Regions from separate parts of the Homo sapiens genome. Here regions 1 and 2 are each linked to region 3. The links come from fine-mapping of genetic effects on gene expression. A gene starts in region 3. Each other region holds a variant in brackets. All regions are shown on one strand. Distances are from middle to middle. Region 1 has its middle 26 kb from the start of TLR4. Region 2 has its middle 25 kb from the start of TLR4. Region 3 holds the start of TLR4 (toll like receptor 4).

Region 1 (2,766 bases), 25 kb before region 3:
AATTTCTCAAATGCTGAAATATTTGACTATAACACATAGGGGATCCTTGGAGACGACAGAAAATACATAGTGGAGATATCAGTTTCCTTCCTGTGAAACAAGGTGAATTGGCTTTATCAGTGCTTCTCAAATCTGCTTAATGATCAAATCACCCAGGGAATTCCAAAAATTATGCACTTCCTCTTCATAACTTAGAAGGGTTTCATTAAGTCCTTCAAGGTTGGGGTCCATGAACCTGTCTCTTTTTTCAAAGCACCCTCTCCAGGAGATTTTGGTTATTAGTTAGGTTTGCTGACCACTTAACTACATCTCAGTTCTATCTGTGTCAACCAAAGATAAAATTATTACCTATCCAATTGCAGGCCCAGCCCCCACCCCTGGATGTTTCTCTTGAACTAGCTCCTTGCCCCAGAATTGGGGGCCCCTGACCATCAAGGCTGGTCACAGTTTGGGAAGTCACTGCCTCCCAAGGAAGTTCATTCAGCATTGGTTAGGTCTGGCTCCCCTGAAAACTCAGGCTTAGGCTAACTCCACACCTGTTTATGCCCTGTAATGTCCATCTACCACTCCGCTCGGGGTCAAGTAGAGTCTATGGAGGGCATATGCCAGCACACAGCCTGGCATTCTGTGAGTGCTTGGGAATATCCAAGGGACCCCTATGGGCCCGAAATCCTACTGGAATTCAGTGCACTAGCAAACACTGGTTGATGATCTGATCAGAGAAGGCTTCCAGAAGAAATGAAGTTTTAGCTGGACTTTGAAGGATAGAAAGGGCTTAAGGAGATAGAAATTAGGTGTTGGGAAATGTTGAAGCTCCTTATCTTAGCAAGGGATGAGATCAGAAATGAGTTTTTACATCTGTCACTCATGGATGGTGTGGTGGATGGATTAAAGGGGAGAATACGGGAGGTAAGAAACCTCCCTTGCATGGTCTATGCACACAGGGAGAAGCCAATGGGCACAGTATGGTGGGAGGATTTGAAGGCCACGAGGGCAGTTGGGGCCATGCAGTCACAGAGTGGGGAAATAGCATTTATTAAGCCCCTACTGTGTGCCAGTGGTCTGCCTCCACTATCTAACTCCCTCTCCATCCTAATCTAAGAAAGTAAGCATCTTTA[T/C]CCCCATTTGGCATGCTAACAAACTGAGGATGACAACAGTTATATGACTTTCTTAAAGCTATTCATGCAAGAAGTGGTAAAAATTAGGATTTGCACCCAGACTGGCTTGTCTCTACATATCAGGAACAGAAAGACATGTAATTAAACTGCAGATTTTTTTAAAAAAAGGGAAATGGTGACAGAGTAGCCATTTGCAGAGGAAGCAAAGGGGGTATCTAGATAAAAAATAGAAGGAGAGAAACACACACACATACACACACACACACACACACACAATTACAGTCTAAGTGAGCCTGTCCCCTTGTCCTCTGGCTAATATATTCTGGGGCGAGTTTAGGGGATCTAGGAGAGAATGACTTGTCAGCTCATAGGAAGTAAATGATAGCATGAGAATTACCGATAATCTTATTCTCCTCTTTCAAACCTACCAAGGGACTAAGACGCATGTATTTTTTTTCTTTTTTCAGAAGAGGTTCGTTTTTCCTTTCATAACCACGGGCCTAGATTGTTTCTCTTTTCCCTCTGGTGTTTGGTCAAATACAACCTGATACGTGATGAGACTGAGCCTTTGCTAGGGGATACAAAAAAAAAAAAAAAAAAAAAAAAAAAAAAAAAACCAAAGTCGTACATGTTAGGCATTTCCATTCAGAAGGACCTCCTCCTGTCTCTTCCACTTGAGGCTTTTGCTCAAATTAAATTACCTTCTGCCTGTTGTCACCACTGTTCTATATATATCTATTGCCTGAGCTATTGAGATAAATGAGTGGAGCCCAAGTTGTTGGGTCAGGCCACAGGAGACATCACAGTTGCTACCAACTCTCTAAAAGAACAGATTGTGTTTCTGGCCCTGAAAGTCCCACTCCATGCTTTGTGGGACAGAGCTAAAAAGGGCTATAGTATCTATGTCTCGTGATTTTTGAGTTCATTTTCTAACAAGATCAGGAATCTCTTTGACATTCATCAAAGCAATTGAGGGTAAAGTCTCCACGTTCTTTTGATGGGTTCCTAGGGCCAGTCTTTTCCGTTTCAATCCACCCACCACACCATCCCCTGAGTAACAGAGTTACATCTCATTTCCGATCTTTTCCCTCCCTAGAATAAAGAACTTCAGTATTTCTAAACACCTTAAGAGACATTCCAGGCCCTTCTGGGTCTTCCCTGCTGCTGTCCTTCTAATTTTTTTCTTCTTTATCTCACCTTTATTTTTACTATTAAAAACAATTGTAATAATAGGTATCACAAATTTAAGTGCTTACTATATGATGGTGTGCCAATTAATTTCTATTCATCATATTAATGTATTTTATCCCATTATAATTCTCTGAGGCAAACATCTGCAGTATCCTCAATGTACCAGACTAGATGATGAAACTTAGGAACAGAAGGGTTAAGTAGCGTAACCTGCCCCAGGTCACACAGCTTCTATGTGGTAGATCAGTGATTTAGGTCTGTCTGTCACCAAACCCCAAATCACTAATCTTTACCTCATGTATGTCACACTACAATATAGCCACTTGTTTACATGTCTGTCCCTCTGTCACCTAAATCATCAACTCCTACCAAGAGATTAAGAATCATGCTTTTTTTTCCCATTGTTTTTGTCCCTGCTGGAACAGGGTCATGGTGGCCACACAGTATATATTTCCCC
Region 2 (2,766 bases), 25 kb after region 3:
CAAGTTATCTCTAGTGTCTAAAGGGTGAAAAAAAGAAAAGAAAAGAAAAACAGACTGAAAAAGTAATGATTACATATTTTTGCTTCTTTCATTTCTGATTTCCCCAAGTATCTAATAAATTAAAATAAAACAAACTCCAAGATGCACATTCTTCTTATTTCTGGAGGAATAAAATCAAGGAGCTTATGGAAGACTTCAAAAAATTGTTGCAGTAGATATAACATGAAATGGAGGGGAATCATAGATTGTAACTGACTTTCTGCCTTCATACGCAACAGGAAGAATGTACGTTCATAGGCAACAAAGTGTTAGTAATCCTTGGTTGAAATATTGTTTTACCTCATGCAATGATAGTTGAGATCTAAAAGAAAAATTTTAAAATGTAAGAATATTAGGTTGGTGCAAAAGTAATTGCAGTTTTGCCATTACTTTTAATATATAATTAAATTTAAAATATAAATTAAAATGTAATGTATATTACATTTAATAATATAAACATACACACAAATGCATACACATAAAACAGAGTTATGGACCTGAAACAATCTATTCTTCTAGGAGAAAACAAGTAATAAAACCAACAGGTAACAAGCATTCAGAGATAATTGCCAGTAATACTCAGACATGTGTTTGATGATTAATAGCAATAGATTTCACAGAGGTGGTTAATAAAGAGGCAGGCAGTGTTGAGACAATATATAAAATGATTAAAAGTGAAATGGTCTTTGGTCCTCAAAGGAAGAAGGAAGGCCTAAAGAGTTTGTCTTTCCCAATACCTGTCACTAAGAAGGTTTTGTGGCATTGAGAAAACCAAGAAGAAGTTAAAGATAAAAACTTGCAAATGGAGAAATTATTCATATGGAAGTCTTGAGCAGTTATTTAACCACTCTTGAAAGTGAAACCAAACAATATCTCAGGCCTTTTTCAGCTTTATGAAAAGACTGATTATCACTAATTTCTTTAAGTGTCTGTTTTTAGATAATGAAAACAGTGGCTGAAAGAAAGAAGATGGAGTCAAAAAAAGTTTAATACTAAAGATCAAGAGAGCCAAATGTTGAATATTTGGCAACAATTGAAAGTACGAATCCCTGAGATTCAAACCTGGAAGTGCTGATTTACGT[G/A]CCAGAAAGCATGTGTTAAAAAGTTGTCTATTAGCCACATTTATCTAAATGCAACAGGAAGGATATGACTCCATCTTCCTAAATGGAATGCCTTCCAAAGCTCAGCTCTCTGAGAAATTTCAGAACAAATTTTTTCTTTCAGAAAAATAATCATTCTTGAATGCAAAAAGGACCAGTAGGAAATACATCTGATTATTGTTGAAACTGCTATATGTGGAACCCTCAAAAGTTTTCCTATCCAATACCTTCCTTGATTTCTTTGATTGGTAAGTCTTTGAAATTGCTGCACAAAGTAATCAAAAATGGAGAAGAAACATTTTTTTCCTATGAAGAATGATTCTAAAGAAGTGGATCTTAGTAACCAAGTGGAAGGGAAAATCTCGGCAAAGCCACTGATCTAATCCAATGCTTCCATTCTGCTGACAAGGAAAACAATAACATAAGCTAATTCTTCTCAAAGATAAGCAGTTGAGAGACAAAACCATATAAACTGAACCCTGGACTTAGCATAAAAAGATCTGAGTCATTTGTCCCTGCCAGGTTACCCACTAACAGTGAACTTGAGAAAGTAACATAAACTCTCTCACCTCATTGTCTCAGGTTGGTCATCAAGGGCTGCTAGTGCAAACATTCTCAGATTCTGGGATACTTTTATGATTAGACACATTCATAAAGAACAGACCGTACTGGCTTTAATCCCAAACTATGACAATAGGGAGTTGGAAAGGTATTCTTTTTCCAAACAAATTCTCCTTTAGTATTCCAAATAGAAAGGGAATATGATGAATAGATCCCTTGCTATCCCAAGAATTCTGTTTTTTCCCCTAGTGCTATCAGTTACTTGATATTTAGTTATTTGCTTTTTTAAAAAAAAAGTATTTTCTTTTCTTGCTATGTGTGGATCACTCAGGAACAAAAATATTTGGCTAAATATTTTTGACATTAACTACTTAATTTGAATATTTTTAAGATTTGCACAACTTTTTTAAGATATTACCTTGCTTGAATAAATTAATTAGAAGATTATCTGTTATGTAGCTGCACATAATGAACCCTTCCCAGATTGGGTCATTCCTAGCCATATTTTTGCCAATATTTTAAGGACCAATTTCTCTCCTAAACTTTGTCCCTTTATGTAGAAAGTATTCCCAACCACAATATATACTTGGCAGTTAAAACTGAATGTGGGTGGAAAAGAAACAAATCTTTCTTGCACATTTCTCATTAAATCCCAAAACCTCTTTGTAGCTTATTTTTAATTCTTTAGAGAAAAATCCTGTTACTAAAAATGTCTGGTACTACCAGAAGATATTACTTTTTGTCTTTTGATCCTGGGACCTGCAACCTGAAGAAAGGTATTGTGCCTTCACTAGGGTATAAGGATTCTGGGTTATCTTACATAACCTGTTGCTGAGTTAATTCAGGAGAAATGAAATATACAAAGAGCAATATGCCCTACAACTTTGACATCATCATCAACACCATCATTATCCATCATTGTAGCAAACACTCATAGCATTATTTAGTTTGAGGCACTGTTTTAATTACTTTACACATTTTAACATAATGAAGTAGAAATGAAAATGTATTCACAGCTTGTGTTATAAAAATTCAACTTGTAAATGTTGTATTAAAAATTTATTCT
Region 3 (2,766 bases):
TTCACTTGTTTCTTTTTTTAATGAGGCTACTAAAAACTTTAAAAGTACATATGTGGCTCACATAATATTGCCAATGGATAGCACTGATCTAGCATTCTAGGTAGAAGAAATAGCCAGTGCAAAGGCCCTGTGGTAGAAAGCTGTTCTAATGGCAATGGAGAGTTATTAAAAGTTTTTAAGGAGAGTAATTTGTTAGATTGAAGCCTAAGGAAAAATAATAACAACAAATGCAAGTACATAACAAACAAGAACGTGCAGAATGAATTAAAGGAAGAAGACTGGAATCAGGAAAGCAGTTAGTGTGTAAGAGTCAATGCCAGGGGAAATGAGGGCCTGCCTTACAGTGGAACTAAGGGGATGGGCAGGGATGGACAGGCTTCAGGGACTGACAGGAAAAGGTACATGGGGAAAAGAAGTCAAGTTTGGCTGTGGTTTTATCTCGCAGTGAGCCTAATTAGAAAATCTATCTCCATTAACCTAACAGCAGAGGGATACAGAGAAGAGGACAAGGAGGAGGACTATGGGCAGGGAATTGAGGGAAGGGATGGCTTCAAGATAATGAATTAGTCTTTGCTAAATATTACTTGATTTTCTCCTATATCCTCAACTTCAGGACTGCAGCTGGCTTTTTCTCTCTTGAGTTTCTGACCCTGCCTCACTGTAAATCATTTTCTTAGCTGTTCGGCTCTACTATGGGTTTCTAAAGCAACTGTGAAGTCTGCGCAGGGGAAAAACAAAAGAGATCCATCATGAATAAGATTACCAACCAGCTGATTGGTATTTCACTAAGAAAGAAACTGTTGCATTAGCTGACATTATACATATTTCCCTCTTGCTTTTTTCTTCTCTCTCTCTCTCTTTTCCTTTTTCATTCTCTTATTTTTTTCATCCTCTGGACTAAACTATATTACTGCATACAGAAGTCTGACACCCACTTAGAAAGTTCTTTCTCTAGAGACACACACACAAAAGCCATCTTTTTCCTGAGATTGAAAGGAGCAGGGTGACTGCTTGAAGCTGAGTGTAAAGACCACCAGTGGGAAGAAATGACACTGAAGCAGTCTGCTTACTCTCTAGTGAAGAAGGTATTATAATTCTCTTACAGATGCGAAAACTAGTCTCAGACAGGTTTGATAATTTCTTCACAGAGCCACAAGGTAGCAGAGCAGGGACCTTAAGCAGATCTATGTTATCTCATGCCCCTGTTAGCACTCAAAATTTCCAAATGGAACAAACCCCCAATGGCTGCCTCTAGTGCCCTGTAACAATGAATTATTTGATCTCTGTGGCTTCTTGAGTCTTTAAGGTAATTTAACTCTTTTTTTTTTTTGCAAAAATAAACAAACCAGGGCACACAGTGAGAAGTTCTGGGCAGAAGTGAGGGAAAGTTCAGAGGAGCTGACTCCAGCCACATACCTCCACGCAGGGCTCCCAGCTTTCTGGTCTCACGCAGGAGAGGAAGGCCATGGCTGGGATCAGAGTCCCAGCCAGGCGCGAGGCAGACATCATCCTGGCATCATCCTCACTGCTTCTGTGAGCAGCAGTGGCCCTGTGAATGCGTGGCTCGCTATCACCGTCTGACCGAGCAGTTTCTGAGGCACTGGTGTCTTCTCTTCCTCGAGCCGCCCCACAGCAATTGGTGTATTCAAAGCAGTTCTGGGCTAAAGGGTGAGAGGAAGTGAAAGCGGCAACCTTAGCATTCTGGACTTTTGTTTCTCTAATAGTTATCTCTTTTGTCACAGGAGAGGAAGTTAGAAGAAGAAAACGCCTGCAGACCAGTGGCTAAAGAAACAGCAAGAGGAAGCTAGTTGGCTTTTATCCCAATTAGTCATCTGACCTCTGCCTGGGCTTGGTGAATTTAGGAAAACAATCAGGTTCTATTAAAATAGCCCTTGTAACTCTCTAGGATGACGGTGATTTTCCAATTTTGTTTCAGCTGTGGAAACACTATTTGTATTAGTTTGCTGGGGCTGCCATAAGGAAATACCACAGACTGGGTGGCTTAAACAACAGACATTCATTTTCTCACAATTCTAGAGGCTTCCAGTCTGAACTCAAGGTGTCAGCAAGTGTGTCTGAATTCTAATCTCCCCTTCTTATAAGGACACCAGTTATGTTGGATTAGGGCCCACCATAATGACCTCATTCTACCTTACATACCTCTTTCAAGGCTCTCTCTCCATATACAGTCATAGTCTGAGGTAGAGGGGTTAGGACTTCGATATGTAGGTTTTTGCAGGACACAATTTGGCCCGCCCCTTCTTGTGAAGAAACTCACATACAAAACTGAAAATAAACCTCAACTGAAACACAGTTTGAAAAGTACAAGAAGATTGGGAAAAGTCTGGGATTTCAGAATGGAATATACTGAAGTTCAGATCTCAGCTGGGTGACTCATGGCTTTGAGGCATTGGTCAAGTCATGTAAACCGCTAAGCTTTACTTTCTTTCTTTTCTTTTTTCATTTTCTGTATTATGGTAAAATCACATAACATAACATGACATAACATAAAATTTATTATCTTGACCATTTGTATGTGTACAATTTAGTGGCATTAATTATGTTCATATTTTTGTACAATCATCACCACTATTCATTAATAAATAACTCCCCATTTCCCCTTTCCCTAGGCCCTTGAATCTATGCACTACTTTTGTCTCTATAATCTTGACTACTCTAGGCAGCTCTTAGAAGTGGAATCATACAGTATGTATCTTTTTGTCACTGGCTTATTTCACTTTGCATAATGTCCTCAAGGTTCTTTTC

What was found.
Region 1: its variant is fine-mapped to the expression of TLR4 in whole blood (TOPMed, PIP above 0.99).
Region 2: its variant is fine-mapped to the expression of TLR4 in atrial appendage (GTEx, PIP 0.96).

What each region holds. Positions count from the first base shown.
Region 1 is chr9:117,728,707-117,731,472 of GRCh38, reverse strand. No RefSeq gene overlaps it. Among named protein-coding and RNA genes, the nearest start is that of TLR4, 26 kb to the right of the region's middle. The variant T/C (reference allele first, on the strand shown) is at 1,119.
Region 2 is chr9:117,678,024-117,680,789 of GRCh38, reverse strand. No RefSeq gene overlaps it. Among named protein-coding and RNA genes, the nearest start is that of TLR4, 25 kb to the left of the region's middle. The variant G/A (reference allele first, on the strand shown) is at 1,122.
Region 3 is chr9:117,703,216-117,705,981 of GRCh38, reverse strand. TLR4 (toll like receptor 4) reads right to left here and starts at 1,579. Exons shown (of 3, transcript NM_138554.5): 1 at 1,417-1,579. The coding sequence starts at 1,509. RefSeq lists enhancers at 1-893, 1,009-1,509, 1,480-1,549, 1,560-1,609, 1,510-2,010 and 1 more.